3 linked regions of the Homo sapiens genome follow. The protein of the gene in region 3 purifies or fractionates together with the protein of the main gene of each other region. This does not show direct contact. Each region holds a gene or a part of one and is shown on either strand. Other genes may lie near its edges.

Region 1 (3,654 bases), on a different chromosome or scaffold from region 3:
TATTTAGTCTTTTCCCAAAGTGCGTATGTCATATTTTTTTTAATTTGCACAACCTTACTAGCAAAAGTATCTGCTTCTTGTGGCCTGGTACCATGTTTATTTCTCTTCTATTGCATGTGGACCTCCTATAGCCTTTAACTATGCTGCATTTATGGAAGTCAGGGACTAGATAGCCCCTGGACTGATTATCCATCATAGTTGTACCCAATAGTGACTGTTAAAGCTTAGGCTTTTGGAGCTCTAAATACCATAAAATCCCTTTCTAATGCTTGTGTCTGGCATGATACTTAGACCATAATATCTTTTTCAGACTAGCATCAAGTTTTTACTTCAGGTTGCTATATATTAGGTGGCTAGATTTGACCTAGGGTATGCAGACAGCTGTAAATTGAAATATCCATTCTCAATATAAGAAGACTTTACTGTATTTTATTTTTCAAAATTACACTTTTATGAAAACTGTCACAATCATGAATAATATAAAATTAGAATCTCTTTAGGATTTTGGATCTTACTAAAATTTCAATATCTAAAATAAATGAGACTGTTCATTTCAATATCCCTTTATTCCAGATACTAGGATGTAAAATGTCTTCATTTTTTCCCAGAAACAAAGGGGTTAGGAAAGAAGGCTTAAGCTCCAATATATTGCAATACAGAGATAGCCAAGGAAGATAAATCTGCTAAGCTGTGTGAAATATAAAAGGAAAAGCCATTTGGTTACTTTACTTTTGTTTTCATCTCTTTCTACCAATACGCTAAGTAATCTTTCTGACCTGGATAGAACCTCTAAATGTGGATATATACTACCATATAGTTAAAGAAACCCAATACATTGATTTTTACATACCCTAGGTACTTCATATACAATCTGCCTATTTTTTCCAGAATAAAAACCACATAAATTGAAAACAAAACAGCTAGCAGCTAGACATCCTATCAAAGAGTTTCTTTCTTTCCTTCTTTTTTTTTTTTTTTTTTTTTTTTGAGAGGGAGTCTTGCTCTATCACCCAGGCTGGAGTGCAGAGGCACAATCTCAGCTTACTGCAACCTCCGCCTCCCGGGTTCAAGAAATTCTCCTGCCTCAGCCTCCCAAGTAGCTGGGATTACAGGCATGCATCACCACGCCGGCTAATTTTTTTATTTTTAGTAGAGATGGGGTTTCGCCATATTGGCCAGTCTGGTCTCAAACTCCTGACCTCAGGTGATACGCCCTTCTCAGCCTCCCAAAGTGCTGGGATTGCAGGCGTGAGCCACCGCACCCGGCCTCAAAGAGTTTCTTGTTACATTGGTTAAAAGCTGTGTTTAAACAACAAAAACAATAATATGGCACACAATGCTTGTGCACCAATAACTTACAACTTTAAAATATATTCTTGAGATTAAAAATAGTCTTCAAATATTAAGCAATACTGCTTTAAGTACAGAAAGCCATATGTAGGTATGTAAATTGTGAACTAATCAAATGGACGATGTAAAGTCCAGCAAATACAGCAAGAAAACTCCATCAAGATTACTACATTAGTTTCCACTTGTGAGTGTGTATATTATGCATGAGAGTCCATTAAAAGAAGCTAAGTAGTGTAAGACTTTTATATGACAGTACAGATATCTTAATTGGTTTTCAATTTACATACCTTCTCTATGTAAATATACTATCATCTTCCAGATGATAATTAAATTACCTGGCATAATGATGGGTAATACAAACAAATACTAAATAATGTATAAATCATTAGCATGGTATTATTTTCTATATTACACAAAATATCTTTCATTCATTATGCTTTAAAATAGCTAATATTATAATTAAGTGCATTGATTACTTACATATTGCATGAAATTACTTTCTATAACATTACCTTATTTTACTATCTAAACATCAGAGGAATTATCAAAATATTACAAATAACATGCAATTACTTTCTGTAACATTACCTCATTTTGCCATCTAAACTCAGAGGAATATCAAAATATTACATCCCAAAATCTATTTAAATAAATTCTCACACATTAAAGATGTCTTTGGTAAACTGCAGGCTGCTCTTTGCAAGGCTCAAAGGAGAATTCTCATAAAGACAGTCCTGTATGAAGTCGCAATTCATAACTACTATTATTTGAAAAATGTTTTGAAATTTTAAATTCAGCTTTGCCATAAAAAGCATCATTCTGTTGAGATTCCATAAAAGAGAATACCTTATTTCCTTTTTTTTTTCAGACAGAGTCTCACTCTGTTGCCCAGGCTGGACTGCAGTGGCAGGATCTCAGCTCATTGCAGCCTCTGCCTCCTGGTTTCAAGCGATTCTTCTGCTTCAGCCTCCTGGGTACCTGGGATTACAGGTGCACTCCACCATACCAGGTTAATTTTTTGTATTTTTAGTAGAGACGGGGTTTTACCATGTTGGCCAGGCTGGTCTCAAACTCCTGAGCTCAAGTGATCCACCCGCTTTGGCCTCCCAAAGTGTTGGGATTACGGGAGTGAGCCACCACGCCTGGCTGATAATACCTCATTCTCAGAAAAAGTGTTCTCCATTTACCAAACAATGATCAAGATTTTATATCTACCACTTGCTTGCATTACTTATTGTTGAGATATATTTTAACACTGTTAATTGCTTGATTTTCTGAAGTTATAAATGAAGAATTTGGGGAAGAGAAAGCAAGATTTAAAAAGAGGAAGACAATATAATTTGTCATCCGGGTTGAAACTCAAAATTGAGAGAAGGGGTTACCATACATAATAATAGCAGGAAATTGGTATAAACAGATAAAGGAAAATCAACATGTACAGTCACCTTCCTTTTAAACAGCTCTATTTTGCCTTTAAGTAAGCATTCGTATGAACAGGAAGTTTTCACAATATTGCAACAGAAGCAGAAACATCTAAAATCAATTCTGCAGAATAACCCCCTCTTGCTGTCCACAGAAAAGTAATCTAGTCAAAATAAGTGTATATAAACTCGATGTAAGAATGTGAGAATATAAATACAGAAAACCTAAGGCATCCAATAAAGAATCTTAAAAAGTTCTTAAACACATGCAATTTATTACATCACTCAATGGTAAACTGACATGAAAGAAAACTACCTGACAAATATACATGACCCCTTATTCAGCTAATTCTGAAAATGAAGAATTTATTAAACCCAGTGACACTAAAATTATTACTGTATTTCTCCAAATTTTTTTCTGTAAAAGATGAGGAAATTACCCCAAGCTAATTTCTCTTCTCATTTTTGAATTAGGATTGCCTTTTAGATCTTTCAAACTTTATCACTTTGCCCACATTGCTTTTTGTGCTAAAAACATGTACGAGCTATTTAATGAGAGGGGAAAAAAAAAAAGAAAAGAAAGAAGGTAAATATAGTCTCAGACCAAGCCCTGAACTCATTTTACCTTTTAACTCCTTGTCAAATTCTCACACTGGGAGCTGCAACCCTGGCAACACTGCATTGCTAGCATGAAAGGATAGGTGGGCTCTTCTCCAAGAGCTCATCTTCCCAAGCCCCCTAGTACCTTCAAAGACTACTGGAAAATATAATCTTGGTGTTCTACAGTTTTAACAAATAAGCATAATAATGGCACCTTTCTTGGAAACAGCAATTTGGAGGATATGATGACTCCACTATCATTTTAAAGCTTCACAGATTAGAA
Region 2 (3,654 bases), on a different chromosome or scaffold from region 3:
CTAGTCGATAAGGAAAATAATGATTAAGTGAGGCATTTCCTAAGTAGCAATGATTCTCCCATGCATTACTATGTTTTGAAAGAATAGGGAAATAGGGATAAGTAGGGAAGGTACCGTGATATAATCAGTAAAAAAGGGAGAGGAAATAAAAGTACAGAAACTGAGGTCAGCTGGGAACTTAAGCAGTCTCCCAGAGAGAGAACACCACATTACCTTGACGACAAGATAGGGGATGAAGGAAGATGCTTCATTCTCAGTAAGATGATATTCTTCTTCACTTAGCAAGGTGAAGAGCAATTTTAAATATTCTAGTGCTTTCATCAGGACGCTTGTATTGGTGTCAAAAAACCTCAGGGTAAGCCACTTTAAGATAAGATCCAGGCAACCAATAACTCCTTCTTTTTCACTCTCCAAGTGCTTAAAATAAAACAAAACAAAACTCCCACAAATAAGAATAATCAAAATCTTAATTCTACTAGGCAAGTGTCTTTTAAATTTTATTGGAGCCCAAAAAGAAAATGACAGATTTTTAAGCCTTCAATTAAGACCTAAAAAATATACACACACATTCATTTATTCTACCAAATAACAAGACAGCTCTAAAAATAGAGAACATAGTATATTCTACTTCCAAGTCATGCAAACTTCAGATTATTTCATAGGGCTCGGTATTTTTACATGTCTGAAATACATGTATATTTATCTATTGCAGACTTACATCAACCATAACAGCAAGGGCTTTGTTATGATGCTGAAAGTCTGAGTGAAACATCTCATCTTGTAACCATTTAGCCACACAGCTAGACATTTGAGTCTTTAGTTGCTCAATGTATTCATCCCGTGGGGTAGTAAAATTCCACTTTAGCACCTGGAAAAAACAAACGGTGAAAAGGGGCTACAGGGTGTTCAACTGAAATGAGGTAGAGAGCCTTATATAATGCAGCTGCAGGAACAATAAAATATTTAAAAATTCAACAATATTCATTTGTAATTAAATATGAATGCAAATTTCAAGGTGTCATACTTCTTGAAGCTTAACAACTCTGAAAATCTTCTAGGAATAAAAATTTTTGGAATTGTTTGTTTTTGAGACAGAGTCTCACCTGTTGCCTGGGCATGGCAGAGTGCAGTGGCATGATCATAGATCACTGTAGCATTAACCTCCCAGGCTCAAGTGATTCTTCTGCCTTAGCCCCCCAAGTAGCTGGGACTACAGACATGCACCACTATGCCCAGCTAATTAAAAAATTTTTTTCGTAGAGATGAAGTCTCAATATGTTGTCCAGGCTGGTTTTGAATTCCTGGGCTCAGGCAATTTGCCTGCCTTAGCCTCCCAAATTGTTGGGATGACAGGCATGAGCCACTGTGCCTGGCCTTGCAATTCTTACTAAAGAAAAAAAAAAAATTAATCCTACATATAACTATATAACATGGTGGACACTGCTGCCACATCTTTGATAGAGAGAAAATTTGAAATATCTATCAAAATTATGCATATCATCATTCTAGGAGTTTAATATAGATACACTCACATATGTGTACAAAGACCTACATTCAAAGATATTCACAGCAGCAGTGTTTGTAATAGTGAAAGACCAGAAACAACCTAAATGTCCAACATAGTGGGCGAAGGATAAAGAAAGGTACATACATACAATGCACCAATACAAACAGTGATACACACATATATACACAGATACGAATGATCTTTCAGATATTTCAAACATCATTAAAAGAAAATAGTGAGATACAGAACAAACAGTACGGCATGTCTGTATATGCCATCTGTATAAAAGGAGGGCTATATAAAAATATACATATGATAGTAGAGGTATAAAATATTTCTGGAGTAATACATTGAAAAAATGAGGACTAATATCCTCCCTGTGGAGGGATACTGGAACAGAGACATGCTTTTCTTACTATACTTTGCACTTTCTGTACTGCATATAATTTTTAAAAAAGATTATGTATTTTGAAAACAAATTTAAGTATCTAATGAAATCAAAGTAACATAAATGACTGAACTAGCCATTTATACAGTCACAAAGTCTGCCTTGTAAGGTCTTAAAAAGAAGGATTAATGAAGAAGCTTATACATCCAATTAATTAAAAAAAAAAATCAATGAAGATACCAAAAAAGCTACTAAATCATTTATTTCTATTTACAGGGAAAAATAGGCAATAACTCTATTCTATAGTTTCTTTTGTAGGAATTAATGCTCCCATAAACTAAATAATATAATTTATAAGCAAAAGAAACACTTAATTCCTAGATATTAAACAATAACATGAATTCAGACAGCAAAACTATTCTTGAATAACAATACAAGCAAAAATCTCCTGACGATTCTTAATCCTTCCTTACCTTCAATCCTTTTTCATCTTTCATCCTTTGCTCTTTTCCATTTGGAACAACAATAAAAATAGGCCCGGATTTGTCTTCATCCTCCTTTAAGCTGGTTTTGCTTGGCATCTTCTTCCCTTGTGCACTCTACAACCAAGGTTCAGGGAATACTGATTAGCTTGGCCACTTCTCCTTAAGAATATGATGCTGCTGCCCAGTAAAAGGGCACTGTAGAAAACAGAGATATCTTTCTACGTGATATTTCACATGAAAAAAACATGCATCACAGAATCTTGTATATGTTTTTGAACAGGTTCTCTAGAAATTTTTCTGAGAATATTCTTAAGTAACTGTTGGTTAGTTCTTGGACTGGCATGTTATGTAGTTGGAAAAACTGCTATTACTGATCATTAGTCTAGGTCACAAACTTTTTGTTTTTGTTTTCTTGAAATCTTCAACACTATTTATAGCTTTCCATATTAATGACATCTTTTTTTTTTTTTTTTTTTTTTTGAGACGGAGTCTCACTCTGTCGCCCAGGCTGGAGTGCAGTGGCGTGATCTCAGCTCACTGCAATCTCCACCTCCTAGGTTCAAGTGATTCTCCTGACTCAGCCTCCTCAGTAGGTGGGACCAAAGGCGCCCACCACCACCCCTGGCTAATTTTTGTATTTTTAGTAGAGACAGGGTTTCACCATGTTGTCCAGGCTGGTCTCGAGCTCCTGACCTCAAGTGATCCACCCACCTCAGCCATTAATGACATCTTGAATGGCATTTACACATTTCCAAACACTTAGTTTGAAAGCTTTTCTGTTTCTTTCCATTGATATTTAAATGTATCTCTTATCATAACAGTGTAACTGAAGACCTTTTGAACTTGCTTCTAGAGAAAGTTACAAGAAATGCTTTAAATATTTAAGTCACTAAAGTGGTTTTAAAAAATAATCCAAGATTTAAAATCTTCATATCAGATAGAAAGAAAATAGTAAACAATAGTACACATATTTAAGGTAAAATTCAAATTTCATTACTGGAATCATTATTATTATAAATGTAGCATGGCCACTATTTCTAGTTGGCCACAATTTCTTTCTAGTATAAACACTAATGTCATTCAGACCAAACAAATATGAGATCATTTATATGAAACTGCTTCGTAAGTTTAAAAAGATTGGGAAAAAAATTATGGCATTAAGAACGGAGTCAAAAATACTGCAAAACACTCGTGATCTAAACTAAAATAAGCACTTGTTAAATTTGGGATGAGGACAGGCAGACAGGAAAAGAACAACGTCATTGGATAGTTGA
Region 3 (3,576 bases):
TATCTTTTTTTAAACAGTAAAACTAAAAACCAAACACACCACCTTCCTTGATCCCAGCTGGCCTCTCGCTGGCCGCACCTGTCACATCTCTCCTTCTTCTCTTTCACCACTCTTTCCCCCAGTCCATCCTGAAGCTCCTGCACCCCCTTCCCGCCTTCCCCTCACTTCCCAAGAATACTCCAAACAAACTCTGAACCACGGAGACTTGGAGCAGTGGGAGACCCCTCTCCCGTTTCTCGATACCTTCCTGGAGGAACGCGGGGACATCGGACCAACCCATACATCAAGCCAGAGAGCGGGGCTTAGGGAGACTGGCCTTGGAGATGCCCCACTCCCTGTCTAAGCTCCGACAAGACTGTGACTTCCTCTGTGGCTGCTCTGCCTCCTCCCACTCACACCCAAGTGGGCCTGGAGTAGAGACGGACAGGCTGGAGACGAGGCCGGAGTTTGAGAGGCCTCAGGGTGGGTGTGAGGCCATGGAGTCTGTATCCCTGGGGAGGCGCTGGCCTCCTGGGCCTTGCCGTCCAGTGGGGAGTGGAGGGCAGAGGCCCTTTGGTCTGCTGGCTGTGGAGGGTGGGTTGCACGGACAGCCGGATATCGGGGACACTGCCTTGGGAGAGGGCGGCCCGGACGGGTATTTGGTACTTTTAGTTTCCTGATTTAGCACTTTAAATGGCATTAACTTATTGAATGGGGATGGGGTGGGCAAGAGTGAGGGGCCTAGAAAACCAGGTTTTGTGGCTTGCAGTTGGGGGAAGGGTCTGGTTTGAGGGAAATGGGAGGGTCGAGAGGGGCTTGACGGGGAGCACTGAAGACACCTGGGACCCGCAGGTGGGGTGACTTGAACTTCAGTCATCCTCTTGGCAATTTGAGGGTTTTCCCAGGAAAGGATGAGACGTAGTTTTTCAATGGGGCTCTGGTGACCCTGGTGAGATGTCTGAAGGTCCCTGAGGCCTGACCATCCAGCCAGCGCCCCTGGCCTGTGGACGCCCTGCCTGCCCTGCAGAGGCGGTTGGCAGTGCCGCCTGGCTTTTGGCCGGGTCCTGGGGAGGCAGAGAGAGGCCAATTTTGGTTCTCACTCCTGGCCCCCCAGAGGGCACAGTGAGGAGCCGGTAGGGAGAGGATAGGAGAAGAGGAGGAGGAGGAGCGGGGTCCCCGGCCGCAGGATTCCCACTTGGAGCACAAAGTGAAGTAAGCACAGGGGAGGGGGACTAGAATCAGTCCCCCATAGCAAGCACAGAAAGGAGGAGCTGCGCAGAAGGCAGAGCCCCCCAGACCCTGGGGCCTGGCTGGGGAAGGTCCGCACCTGGGGAGAGCTGGGAGCTGTTGAAGGTTTGGGGGGAGGGGAAACGGGTTGTGTTTCTTCATTTCTTTTTTTGTTTTTGCCTTTGTTGGTTCATCCTTGTTTTCTAGCTTTGGATCATTTTTGTACCAAGGCGAGCAAGCCTTTTTGAAAAATAACAAAAGAGGAAAAAAAAAATCCCTCCTGGAAAAAAAAAAAAACCCTGGAAAATAGAAAAAAAAAAAAGGACCTCATAAATGATGCAATTACTTTTAATTGCAGGCAACTCTTTACATTTAAGTGAAGTGTCTTAACATTTTATATTGTTTTAAAAATATATTTACATATTATATATATAATATACGTAATATAAATATATATAAATATTTAAAAAAGAAAAAAAAAAGAAAACCACGGCACTCTCCCTGGCCACTGTTTTGGCGGGGGAGGGGGGCTGGGGGGCGGGCACGTCGGCCTGGCTTCTGTGGTCCCAGTGAAATGGTCTGGTTTGATTTGGCTGTACAGAGACCCCCTGACTTGGGAGGGGAGGGGGGAGTGGTGCCCCCTCCTCCCTCCACTCCATTACTCTCTGCTTGCTACTTCGCTTGCCCCCAGCTCCCACCCTCAGCCCTGTGACTGGAATGTGTGCCCCACCGTCATTGTCCTGAGTTGAATGTCCCTTTGTGGGGGAGGTGGGGGGGGCAGTGTCCATCCACGAAGGGGCAGAAGGAGGGAGCCACGTGCCCCGCCCCACCCGCTCGGGTGAAGCCCAGTGGGATTTGCATCTTTCTTTCTCTTTGGTTCCTGCACATTTATGGGCTGGGAGGCATCCGTGTGGAATTGCGTGCAGCCTGTGTGTGTGCTGGCACAAGCCCATGCACTGTGTGTGCAGACGCATGGGGCCTGCACCCACAGGCATGGCCGAGCACATGTGTGGGGGAAGGCGTGGGCACATAGGTGCATGTAACCTGTTTGGGCATTGGCACGTGCCTACCTGCATGTTAGCGTGAGAGGAGCTTTGTGTGTGAGAACATGTGTAATGTGTGTGCAGACATGCCGAGAGCCAGAGACTTGTGTGTGGGCCACGTACATGTGGATAGAGACGCATACATGGAGGTGCATGTAATCTGTGTCTCCGAGTGTGTGTGTGCAGGTATGTGTGCTGGTGCAGACCCAAGTGTGTGGGTGTGCCTCTGTGTGCGTGTGTTCCATCATCCCTGCACCACTGGCTCCAGATCCCTTCCTGAGCCCCCGTCCCCGCTGGCCCTCTCACAGCCTGCAGCACATCAGTGCCCCCAGCTGCATGCGCCTCGCTGCTCTGTCCATCAGTGTGTGCTTGACCAAGAGAAAACTAAGACGTCTCGGGGGACCCCTGTACCTGGTCCTCTCAGCCCCCGCCCACTGTGCTGTGTTACTCGCATGGGGGATTTCCTGCCCCTTCCACAATATGCTGTTTCCCCAGGAGCCTCAGGCCTGAGGCTCTGAGTGGGGTCCCCAGGGGGCCCCCCGGGGTGAGCCCCGGCTCCACACCCTGCCCCATCCACCCTGTAGGGCCCATGTTGGTGTAGCAGTGATGGCTTCTGTGGATATTCTGTGACCTCTGTCGGTGTAACTTGACAATTTCTAAATGGAAAAGGGTTGCTGTGTTTTCTCTGTCTCTCTTTTTTAATGTCCTTTTTTCTTCTCCCCCGCTCCCTGCTCTCTTTCCTTTTCAGTTTTTCTAGCCAAGTGTTTGGGGCTTTAATAAAACTTGTTTCTTTTTCCTCTCCTGGATCTCCTTCCTATAGGCTGATGTCTCATTATTTCTCTGCTTCACCCTGGAGGATCTGGAAGGTGCTGGGATGGGTGGGGTGGCAGGTGGGGAATCCCTGGCAGCCACTGGCCTTCAGCTGGCAGAGCATGAGGGGGAGGACAGAACAGGGCCCCTGGGATTAGCCAGGTGGGGTGGTGTACACCAGTAATCCCAGCTACTCGGGTGGCTGAGGCATGAGAATCGCTTGAACCCAGGAGGTGGAGGTTGCAGTGAGCCAAGATCGCACCACTGCGCTCCAGCCTGGATGACAGAGCGAGAACCTGTCTCAAAAAACAAAAACAAAACAAAAAAAACCAGTTCTCAGCTTGGCATTCCAGGAGGTGTCCTGCCTAACCCTCACAACCATCGGTGAGGTAGCTACCGGCACTACCTACTCAGGCAAGTGACAAAACTCAGAGATGTTGGGCATCTTACCCAGAGTCATACAACTGGTAGGTTGTAGACAAACCAGTAAGTTTGAATCCAGCTCTGCCTGACACCA

What was found.
Region 1: the proteins of SRCIN1 (region 3) and RIMS1 purify together in Homo sapiens (co-immunoprecipitation; one large-scale study listed by IntAct). This does not show direct contact.
Region 2: the proteins of SRCIN1 (region 3) and CKAP5 fractionate together in Homo sapiens (co-fractionation; one large-scale study listed by BioGRID). This does not show direct contact.

Annotation. Positions count from the first base shown.
Region 1 is NC_000006.12:71,893,007-71,896,660, reverse strand, and holds part of RIMS1 (regulating synaptic membrane exocytosis protein 1), read right to left. Parts: intron 1-3,654. UniProt on the Homo sapiens protein: Rab effector involved in exocytosis. May act as scaffold protein that regulates neurotransmitter release at the active zone.
Region 2 is NC_000011.10:46,762,763-46,766,416, forward strand, and holds part of CKAP5 (cytoskeleton-associated protein 5), read right to left. Parts: intron 2,495-3,654; coding exon 2,369-2,494; intron 869-2,368; coding exon 719-868; intron 418-718; coding exon 214-417; intron 1-213. UniProt on the Homo sapiens protein: Binds to the plus end of microtubules and regulates microtubule dynamics and microtubule organization. Acts as a processive microtubule polymerase. Promotes cytoplasmic microtubule nucleation and elongation. Plays a major role in organizing spindle poles.
Region 3 is NC_000017.11:38,529,503-38,533,078, reverse strand, and holds the end of SRCIN1 (SRC kinase signaling inhibitor 1), read left to right. Parts: 3' UTR 1-3,048; downstream 3,049-3,576. UniProt on the Homo sapiens protein: Acts as a negative regulator of SRC by activating CSK which inhibits SRC activity and downstream signaling, leading to impaired cell spreading and migration. Regulates dendritic spine morphology. Involved in calcium-dependent exocytosis.